3 linked regions of the Homo sapiens genome follow. The protein of the gene in region 2 interacts with the protein of the main gene of each other region in a pairwise test. Each region holds a gene or a part of one and is shown on either strand. Other genes may lie near its edges.

Region 1 (3,755 bases), on a different chromosome or scaffold from region 2:
ATTAGATGCAGAAGTTTTTGGTTTTTTGTTTATTTGTTTGTTTGTTTTTGAGACAGGGTCTCACTATGTCACCCAGGCTGAAGTGCAGTGGTGTGATCTTGGCTCACCGCAACCTGCACCTCCTGAGCTCAAGCAATCCTCCCACCTCGGCCTCCCAAAGCGCTGGGATTACAGGCATGAGCCACCGTGCCCGGCCTAGAAGCAGAAGTTTTTAATGTGCCCAATAGTAAGATAGAAACAGAAAAATCTATAAACAGAAGATGTAAGAACTTAAAGTTTAGATTACTTACAAGACAAAGAGACATATGCATCTCAATAGTCCCTAATAGGCTTTAAATATAATAAACTGATGCTGCTGTTGATGGTCCTGAGTTATGACTGAAATGTTAATATTCATTCAATCTATTCCATTTGACTGGCTAGGAACTAATAATTTTAGGTAGACTTCTAATGAAATGGATAAAATAGAATAAAATTTGATGCCTCAAATAACAGCTAACATTTACTGGGGGCTTACCATGTATTAGGAACTATTCTGAAAGTTCAACACATGCTTAGAGGAGGTTAGCTTCAATTATCTGAAAAAATTCAATTATAAGAAACATTTCAATCCGCAAAGGCACTGGGTAAGGCATCATTGTGTTATTACAGTTTTCTGCATCCAGTCAAGGCTTGTACTTACCTATAGGGACAAAGGGGGAGTCTCTAGATTTCCTGATTAGTCGGGATAATTGGCCTTCATCCTCATCTGCTGACCACTGGTTATCTGAAGACATTTTTTTCTCTAGTAACAATAGGATATAAATGTGGTTGCCGTGAATCATTAAAAATAATTTGTTTTTCCTCTCCCATCATACTCTTGATTATGTGTTTTTTTGTTTTCATTTGTTTGATAAGCCTATCTGCTCAACTGAAACAATTGTCTTTCCTTCACACTTTTCACTACCGAATTTTTTCATTTTGCAGGGGAAGGGGATAAGAAAAAAATACATAGAGGAAATGATAATCAGATTTCATGAATACAGAGTAAAAACACAGATCATAATGCTGTTATTCAGTCTCCTTTCCACTGCTCAGCATTTGAGATCACTGGGAACCTCAGGACTTCTTCCACAAGCACTGTATTTGAAGAACACATTTTCTTTTTAAAGTATCATTTTAAAGAAGTATGGCAGTGCCAACATAGGCAAAAATACTTCCAGATTTACAGGTATTGGGAGAATGATCACTTCAACTCTGCAGAATGTGCAGGGCATTATAAAGTCATTCAGATATTTACCAAGCACCTACTGTGTGCCAGTTGCTATGCTAGACAATGGATTCCTTGTCTAGCCTGGCTTGTCTACATAGGATGAATGAAGAAACTTGCAAAAGCAACTATAATCACAACAGATTTAGCAGCGCCTGAGTCTGTTCCCTGTGCAGCTTATTGTGTTCACCCCAGAATTCAAATACAGCGGCTTCATCCTATGAATGAGACTTCATCAGAAAACTTAAGCGTAAGAAGCACAATACCTGTGGCACACCCCGCCACCTGCTGTCTGTCTCCTGTTGTTCCTTCAGCAAGAGGCTGTAGATCAGAACAGGTGTTTGTTGTAAGGCCAGGACACGATGTGCAATTTCCAACTAATTGATAATGGGAAAGCCCAGAAACACGCCCCAGGGGACTGGGGGAGTGGTCGGCTGGTATTGGCCAAGATTTCCAGCACCCTGCTAGAAACTCACCAGTAGCAGCCTGGGCCACAAACTAGGCTTTTGAAGCCAACATTAAGAAAAACATGAAGGCTTTGGAAGAAGATGCATTTGCTTAAGTCTGCCTTCACAAGGGAGCTCCTGACTTCCCTCTGTGACTGTTGAGTCTTAGTACCTGACTCCTGGGCCCAAAATTGAGGGGAAAGAGGGCACAGGGTCACAACACTGGGCTTGGAGGGGAAGGGGAGAAGATAGCCATCAGAGGCCAGGATTCTTGCCATCCTTCGGAAACACGCCCTAGCCAGAGGAGGTGCGCTCCCTGCAGTTGGAATCTCCGGCTGAGGCGATGAGAGCCCGCCGGGCTCACCTGGCGGTAAGGCCATCGCAGGTGCGCCTCCTGCAAAGCCTCGAGCTGCACACGCGCCCAGGGGAAAGACGTGACGTTGCTGCACCTGTGGCTAGTCCCTGCGCCTGTGTGTGAGACCTGAGTGGGGCTGTGGAGACCCGAGAGGCTGTGGCTCTTGAGGTGGGTCGGTGGTGGACGTGGCCTTTGCTTCTGTTCTGACCTTGTAGCCTTGGGGCCCCTTGAGACCTTGGAGAACACCTTGCTCACCGCCTCCCTCCGACTGCAGCCATGTGGACCTAGAGATGAGGGCAGAGGATCAGGTAGCGTTCATGGTTTTTCCCTTGTAACTTAATGTTTAAATAATTTCAGACTTATAGAAAAGTCCCCAGAATAGTACAAAGAACTGTGTGTCTGGTACCCGCATTTTCCTTTATTAACATGTTTCTTTCTTTAAAAAATATTTTTGGCGAACCACCTGACAGTAGCAGACTTATGCCTTTTCTTCCATATACTTTTGTATGCATTTGGGGCATTCTTTTATTATATAACCATAGTACAGTGTTCAAAATCAGAAACTTAACATTGATATAATTCTGTTTTTCAATCTAAAGATTTTATTCATATTCACCAGTTGTCCCAATTATGTCCTTAATAGCAAAAAAAAAAAAAAAAAAAAATTTCTGGTCTAGCATCCAATTAGGATCATATATTGCATTTAGTTGTCCTGTTTCTTTAGTCTCCTTTAGTCTGAAACACCTTCCTAATCATCTTTGTCTGTCTTGACCTTGATTTTTTTTTCTTTTTTTTTTTTTTTGAGATGGAGTTTCGCTCTTGTCACCCTGGCTGGAGTGTGATGGCGCAATCTTGGCTCACTGCAACCTCTGTCTCCTTGGTTCAAGCAATTCTCCTGCCTCAGCCTCCCGAGTAGCTAGGACTATAGAAGCGCCACACCACGCCCGGCTAATTTTTTTGTATTTTTAGTAGAGATTTTGTTTCACAATGTTGGTCGGGCTGGTCTCAAACCCCTGATCTCAGGTGATCCACCCACCTTGGCCTCCCAAAAGTGCTGAAATTACAGGTGTGAGCCACCGCGCCCAGCCGACCTTGATGTTTTGCCAGTTATTTTGTAGGATGCCTCTCAATCTAATCCTGTGTTCCCGTCCCCTCCCCCAACTCATGTTTTCTCACTAGATTGAGGTCATACATTTTGGGCAGAATATGACAAAAATGATGTTGTGCTCTTCTTAGTGTGAAATATCAGGAGACACAGAAAGTTGAATTGCCTGGTGGTAGTTAACTTTGATCCAGTGTGGTGCTGACAAATGTTTAACAACTCAACTGGCTCTGGAGGGGGAGATATTGCCCTGTTCTGTGGCATTTGCCATTGCCCCATTCTGTGTTGTAAATATTCCCACCATGCCCAATTTCTAAATAGAGTCTGTCATCACGGAACACAAAGTTGGGAAATGTCCCTTTCCTGGGTTGGTAGGAATGGGCTCTAGCACACCACTGCTTTCATCATGTGGATTAACGTGGTGTCTGCCTGGTTCTCCACTGTGGTTACTTTTTTTTCTCCCTTTTAATTAATAAGTAGTTTCTGAACAGGTACTTTAATATTATACAAATATCCTGTTATTTGTCAGACTTTTACCCATTAATTTCAGTGTCTGTTGATGATCCTTGCTTGAATCCATTAATTTTAGTTTGCTAAATGGTG
Region 2 (3,655 bases):
TTCTTATACACAGCCTAATATCACAAAAAAATTAATCAAATAAAAAAATATAACTCTGGCAAGATTGCTCTAGTGAACTTTGTTCCTTTTACAAAAAATAATTCCCCTTTATCTCTAGGAGCTAGGCAACTGGTTCAAGACCAAAAGAATCCTATCTTCTCCCTGGTCACAGTTATTGGTTCAGAAATGGATGAGGACATGACACAAGGAGGGCCAGTGACATGAACGGAGAGGACTGCTGAGCACTCTTGGTCCAGAAGCTCTCTCACTCCTCTAAGGTTTTGGAAACAAGCGCCCCCAAACTGTTGATGGTTTCCCATAACCGAGAGAGAGGACTCTGGCCAGACGATAAAATTTACGTTAGAGAAGACAAAGTAGAGAAAAGCACAAAATTGAATCTTTGGCAACATCACTCAAACCAATCAACCCTAAAGCCCATCTGGCTTCTGAACCCTCAAGACACAGGAGACAATAAAGCCACTAGGTTTGTTTAAAACAATTTGACTTCAGTTACTTGCAATGGCAGTCACTCTAAGCTGAAGAGCAATTCACCATACTAAGGGAGCTTAACAGAGGAAGATGTACTCAAGTTAGAGAAGGTAGCTTTGAGTAAGCATCTCTTAAACTGAGATCAGAAGAATAATTAGCAAGGGAAGGAAGGGCACTCCAGGCAGCTGGATCAGCATTTGCAAAGGTCCCCAGGGTAGAGGGGAAAGAGGTGAGTACTAAAGAATGAAAAGCAGCAAGCGAAAAATAAAAAGGTATGACATGGGACTGGAGAAGTGGGTAAGCGCCATAGTCGTCAGGGTCTCATAGGCTGTGTTAAGGAATTAGACTTCATCCTAAAAGTGCTGCAGGTTTTTGGAGAGAAGGTGATATAAAAATTACTGTCTATAGTGTGGTGACATTAATTCATATATATCTAAGGAACATACCTGACCACCAGTACTATAATGAACATTTCATTTTCAAATAGCTTTCAAGACAACAGAAAAATTTCAGCAAACACTGTAACTTGACACACGTGGAATCTCTTCTACAAAGTTAACAGAAGGGCATCCAGACAGCTTGACAGCTCTAGCGAACCACACTTATGTCCTGAAACGTATTAATCTGGGATAGTTTACTTGGAAATTATTTGAAGACCTGGGCTCTACAAATGAAAGCTGACTGTAATTATCATCCAGCCCAGCTCTCACAGTACGCAGAAGCCAAGGGTGTAAGTGGGATTCCTAACAGGGCTTAATGTTATGAATGCCCAGGCACATGTGCTTGTCTCAAAGTGCTCCAAGACTTGAAATAAATAACAATGTGCTTATCTCAGAACGTCAAGAAACAGGAAAGAAAGTATGCTGCCTGCTAAGCTTTTTCTATTTCATGACTGCTTCATTTTACTTTCCCTTTGCACTGCAGAATTCCAGGAATTGATTTAAAAAAAGATAATTCTCCCAAAAAACTCATCTTCATTAACTGAAACTAACTGTTTTACTCTCTGCCAATATTACTGTAATCCATTTCACAGAAGCCAGGCTTTTATAACTCTTAAATATTGTTAGTTAACTCAAACTCACAATTACACATACAGATTACAAGTTTGCCAGGCTGAAGTGCTTCAATTGTGCTCAGAAAATAAATGTTTACATTAAAACGTTATAAAATATTAAATCATGTAATTCACTATAATACCAAAGAAATCATGAATTCTCTGTATATCTTCTATTGTTAATAACAGTCTACAGTATACTATCAACGATATGTATCGACCCATCCTCTGAGAGATCAGTTAACATCACAGATCTCAGTATTGCACATCTTAAGACACTGACCTAGTATTTTTCCAGTGATTAGCAAAATGTAGGCTGTTTTTTGTAAACAGACTCAACACTGCAAATTCTAAATGTTTTCTGTAAACAACCTACTGACCTGAACAAACAAGAGATGGCGGCTAATACACTCATTCGAAGAAGTCAATCAGAACTTCAAATATGTCACTAGAAAAATTACTAAAATGAGATACTGCTAAACAGCAATGAAAGGACTCTTCTTTTCTCTTTTTTTTTTTTTGGTTATTTTCATTTTTTTTTTTATTATACTTTAAGTTCTAGGGTACATGTGCACAAGGTGCAGGTTTGTTACATATGTACACATGTGCCATGCTGGCATTAGGTATATCTCCTAATGCTATCCCTCCCCCCTCCCCCAACCCCACCACAGGCCCCGGTGTGCGATGTTCCCCATCCTGTGTCCAAGTGTTCTCGTTGTTCAATTCCCACCTATGAGTGAGAACATGCGGTGTTTGGTTTTCTGTCCTTGCGATAGTTTGCTCAGAATGATGGTTTCCAGCTTCATCCATGTCCCTACAAAGGGCATGAACTCATCCGTTTTTATGGCTGCATAGTATTCCATGGTGTATATGTGCCACATTTTCTTAATCCAGTCTATCATTGATGGACATTTGGGTTGGTTCCAAGTCTTTGCTATTGTGAACAGTGCTGCAATAAACACATGTGTGCATGTGTCTTTACAGAGCATAATTTATAATCCTTTGGGTATATACCCAGTAATGAGATTGCCGGGTGAAATGGTATTTCTAGTTCTAATACCTAGGAATCCAACCTACAAGGGATGTGAAGGACCTCTTCAAGGAGAACTACAAACCACTGCTCAATGAAATAAAAGAGGACACAAACAAATGGAAGAACATTCCATGCTCATGGATAGGAAGAATCAATATCGTGAAAATGGCCATACTGCCCAAGGTAATTTATAGATTCAGTGCCATCCCCATCAAGCTACCAATGACTTTCTTCACAGAATTGGAAAAAACTACTTTAAAGTTCATATGACCCAAAAAAGAGCCCGCATTGCCAAGTCAATCCTAAGCAAAAAGAACAAAGCTAGAGGCATCACGCTACCTGACTTCAAACTATACTACCAGGCTACAATAACCAAAACAGCATGGTACTGTTACCAAAACAGAGATATAGATCAACGGAACAGAACAGAGCCCTCAGAAATAATACCACACATCTACAACCATCTGATCTTTAACAAACCTGACAAAAATAAGAAATGGGGAAAGGATTCCCTATTTAATAAATGGTGCTGGGAAAACTGGCTAGCCATATGTAGAAGCTGAAACTGGATCCCTTCCTTACACCTTATACAAAAATTAATGTGAGATGGATTAAAGACTTAAATGTTAGACCTAAAACCATAAAAACCCTAGAAGAAAACCTAGGCAATACCATTCAGGACATAGGCATGGGCAAGGACTTCGTGTCTAAAACACCAAAAGCAATGGCAACAAAAGCCAAAATTGACAAATGGGATCTAATTAAACTAAAGAGCTTCTGCACAGCAAAAGAAACTACCATCAGAGTGAACAGGCAACCTACAGAATGGGAGAAAATTTTTGCAATCTATCCATCTGACAAAGGGCTAATATCCAGAATCTACAAAGAACTTAAACAAATTTACAAGAAAAAAATCAAACAACCCCATCAAAAAGTGGGCGAAGGATATGAACAGACACTTCTCAAAAGAAGACATTTATGCAGCCAAAAAACACATGAAAAAATGCTCATCATCACTGGCCATCAGAGAAATGCAAATCAAAACCACAATGAGATACCATCTCACACCAGTTAGAATG
Region 3 (3,655 bases), on a different chromosome or scaffold from region 2:
GAAGAGGTTGCAGTGAGCCGAGATCGTGCCACTGCACTCCAGCCTGGGCAACAGAGCGAGACTCCATCTCAAAATAATAATAATAATAATAATAATAATAATAATAATAATAAAACTCTTGGCCGGGCATGGTGGCTCACGCCTGTAATCCCAGCACTTCGGGAGGCCAAGGTGGGCGGATCACGAGTTCAGGAGATCAAGACCATCCTGGCTAACACAGTGAAACCCCGTCTCTACTAAAAATACAAAAAAAAAAATTAGCTGGGCTTGGTGGCGAGCGCCTGTAGTCCCAGCTACTAGGGAGGCTGAGGCAGGAGAATGGCGTGAACCCAGGAGGCAGAGCTGGCGGTGAGCCGAGATCGCGCCACTGCACTCCAGCCTGGGCAACAGAGTGAGACTCCGTCTCAAAAAAACCAAACCAAAACAAAACAAAACAACAACAACAAAAAACTGTTAGAGCACGGTTTTTGCTCAGCTTAGCTCCAGGATGAGGGAACAGGTATCTGGGTGACCAGAACAGAGGAACAAAGACTGGTGCTGCCTCTGCGCTGGGGGAGGGAGAGAGTCTGCGCTGTGAGTCCGCCTGGCCACTCACGTGGAAGCCATGCAGAGAGATTGGGCCACAGCCTCCCCATCACGATCATCCAGTGGAATCAAATGGATGCTGGCCATAAAAGTCGATTCCAATGCCTCCAGGAGGAAAGAGGACAACCTAGCTTACCTCAACCATAACTGTCGTTTCCGTTTATAATTCCATCTCTTTCCATTATGTTCATTATTTCATTTTGTTTCATTACTGACCTTTATGAAATCCACCTTCTCCTCGTGACACATCTCCTCTATTGTTTCCATCAGTTCTTTGCAAGTATCTAGGTTTTCTCCACAGCTGACCAGTTGTCCATATAAGGCTTCCAGCTTCTCTTTCTTTTTCTCCCCTAGAGCTTGTATTTTTTCCTCATATTTTTGAGCAAGTGTTTCCAAGATCTCGTTGTAATGTGACTCAAAGTTTTGTTCTTGTTTTCCAAAATTCTCCTGCAAGACAGTTGATCTCAGTCATCATTTCAGCGCATGTAGTGTGTTGATTAGAGTCTTTTGTTTTTTGTTTTTTTGTTTGTTTGTTTTTGAGACACAGTCTTGCAGTGTTGCCCAGGCTGGAGTACAGTAGTGTGATCTTGGCTCATTGCAACCTCTGCCCCCCAGGTTAAAGTGATTCTCCTGCTTCAGGCTCCTGAGTAGCTGGGATTACAGGTGTGCATCACCATGCCCGGCTAATTTTTGTATTTTTAGTAGAGATGGGGTTTCATCATATTGGCCAGGTTGGTCTTGAACTCCTGACCTCAAGTGATCCGCCTGCCTCAGCCTCCCAAAGTGTTGGGATTACAGGCAAGAGCCACCACGCCCAGCCTGATTAGAGTCATTAGAGAAATGAAAATATGTGCCTATCAGAACTATTTTAGTTCCTCTACTTTGTCCTCTCATCTCTTGTTGGGAGTTGGAATGGAAACTGGAGGTGCTGGAACATAGGTGTCTCCGGCCTAGACTCCAGGAATAATCTAAACAAAAGCACTGCTTTCTCTCCTGGCAGCATTTTGCAATCCAGTTCCAGTTTCAACTACCTTCTATCACCATGACAAGTGACCAGGGAGATTATCAGTGATGATTCTGCCCGATATTGGACCTTAATGTGGAAATATTTTCCCTGAGAGATTCCCATCTATCATTCTCTCCTGAGCTCTTAACATCTCATGAGGCTCCTCTTCACTCCCTGGTGCTTGGATCATACAAATATCAAGATTAAATCAACTAGGATCATATCAACTAGGGGAGAAATGAAGGCAAAGGAGGAACAAGGGTTGTGGTCTGGCGGCACTGCTTACAGATGAGAAGATGCAAGAGGGCAGAGGGAGGGTTCTGACAATATTAATCCAGGAGCACAGTAGATGAGAAATATTAATATTAATAGAGTATATATTGCTTATATTGTCCCCAGAGCTCTGCAAGCTCTGATGGATGTCATCCTCATCAGATGATGGGGACATTTCCAAGGAAGAGGATCTTATCAATCATTCAGGGAGTAATTACTGAACACCTGCTATGTGCACAGGACTTGCTCAGAATGGTGGAAGAGAGAGAAAGGCAATAGATGAACTTCCCAGTGTTGAGTATGAAAGGATGGCCACTGAGGATGAAGGGACTTTGATCTGAGAGTAAGCTGGCAGAGCAGCATGTAAGAAGTTTTTTATTTTATTTTATTTTATTTTATTTTTTTTTTATGGAGCCTCATTTTGCCACCCAGGTTGGAGTGCAGTGGAGCGATCTCAGCTCACTGCAACCTCTGACTCCTGGGTTCAAGTGATTCTCCTGTCTCAGCCTCCCAAGTAGCTGGGATTACAGGCACCCACCACCAAGCCCAACTAATTTTTTTTGTATTTTTAATAGAGATGGGGTTTCACCATCTTGGCTAGGCTGGTCTCGAACTCCTGACCTCAAGTGATCTGCCACCTTGGCCTCCCAAAGTGCTGAAATTACAGGCGTCAGCCACTGTGCCCGGCCAATGTAAGAAGTTTTGTCTTCGATGTTGTACACTTACCCCCTTCTACCACTACCCTATGCTTGGCAGTGGAAGGGTTTGCCACTTCTCTGTATCTTCCATGGGGGATTAGTGCAATAGCTCTCCTCCCTTGTAAGATTGGGGCTGGAAAAGGTCTACCTTCATGGGAAATGGGCCTGGGGCTTCGTTGATTCATATAAGATCCTCCTGTTGGTACCATCCGAAGCTGCATTAATAGAAGTAGAGCATCCGCATGAAGAGAAGAGAGAGGGCAAGTCCTAAGCTCCTCAGTCCTGGTTGACCTCATCTGGAAGGTTGGGTTGAGCTCTGGCATCATAGTGGTTACCATGTATCTACTAGGGCACACACAGGGGACTGTGGCATGTTTGGTGACAGGCATGGAAACTTATTAATCTTATGAGAAATAGATATCAGCTGAGGAAAAGAACACTTACCAAAAACGGGATGGGTATCCTGTAATACCTTGTCAAGGCTGAACCGTGAAAGAGGAGCTAGTCTTATTCTGTGTAGCTCTAGGGGCCAATATGACTAGTGGACAAAAGTTACAGAGCCACACCACACCTTCTATCTCAGTCGTCTTGGCATCTGGATCAAGGCTCACATTCTTACCCATGTCAAGATTGGGAGGGAGAGGGGCTGTCAAAGAATAGAAACTCCTTTCCAATCCTAGAATTCTAAGCTTTTACTGATCTCTCAGAAAAGTCTGGAAATTGCTAACTAGACAAAGGCAATACATTATTTATTTATTTATTTATTTATTTATTTATTTATTTATTTGAGATGGAGTCTCGCTGTGTTGCCCAGGTTGGAGTGCAGTGGTGTGATCTCGGCTCACTGCAACCTCTGCCTCCCGGGTTCCAGCAATTCTCCTGCCTCAGCCTCCCAAGTAGCTGGGACTACAGGCACATGGCACCACACCCAGCTAATTTTTTATTAGTAGTAGAAATGGGATTTCACCATGTTGGCCAGTCTGGTCTCGAACTCCTAACCTCAGGTGATCCACCCGCCTTGGCCTCCCAAAGTGCTGGGATTACAGGCGTTAGCCACCGTGCCCAGCCATAAATTTATTTTTTAAATGCATGC

Evidence for each region.
Region 1: the proteins of FARS2 (region 2) and HIGD1C interact in binary tests that used the Homo sapiens proteins (3 or more experiments, as listed by UniProt).
Region 3: the proteins of FARS2 (region 2) and FSD2 interact in binary tests that used the Homo sapiens proteins (3 or more experiments, as listed by UniProt).

Annotation. Positions count from the first base shown.
Region 1 is NC_000012.12:50,951,020-50,954,774, reverse strand, and holds the start of HIGD1C (HIG1 domain family member 1C), read right to left. Parts: upstream 2,232-3,755; 5' UTR 2,076-2,231; coding exon of another isoform or gene 2,060-2,075; exon of another isoform or gene 1,571-2,059; coding exon of another isoform or gene 1,516-1,570; exon of another isoform or gene 967-1,515; intron 785-966; coding exon of another isoform or gene 777-784; coding exon 683-776; intron 1-682.
Region 2 is NC_000006.12:5,267,891-5,271,545, reverse strand, and holds part of FARS2 (phenylalanine--tRNA ligase, mitochondrial), read right to left. Parts: intron 1-3,655. UniProt on the Homo sapiens protein: Is responsible for the charging of tRNA(Phe) with phenylalanine in mitochondrial translation.
Region 3 is NC_000015.10:82,781,994-82,785,648, forward strand, and holds part of FSD2 (fibronectin type III and SPRY domain-containing protein 2), read right to left. Parts: intron 1,033-3,655; coding exon 802-1,032; intron 1-801.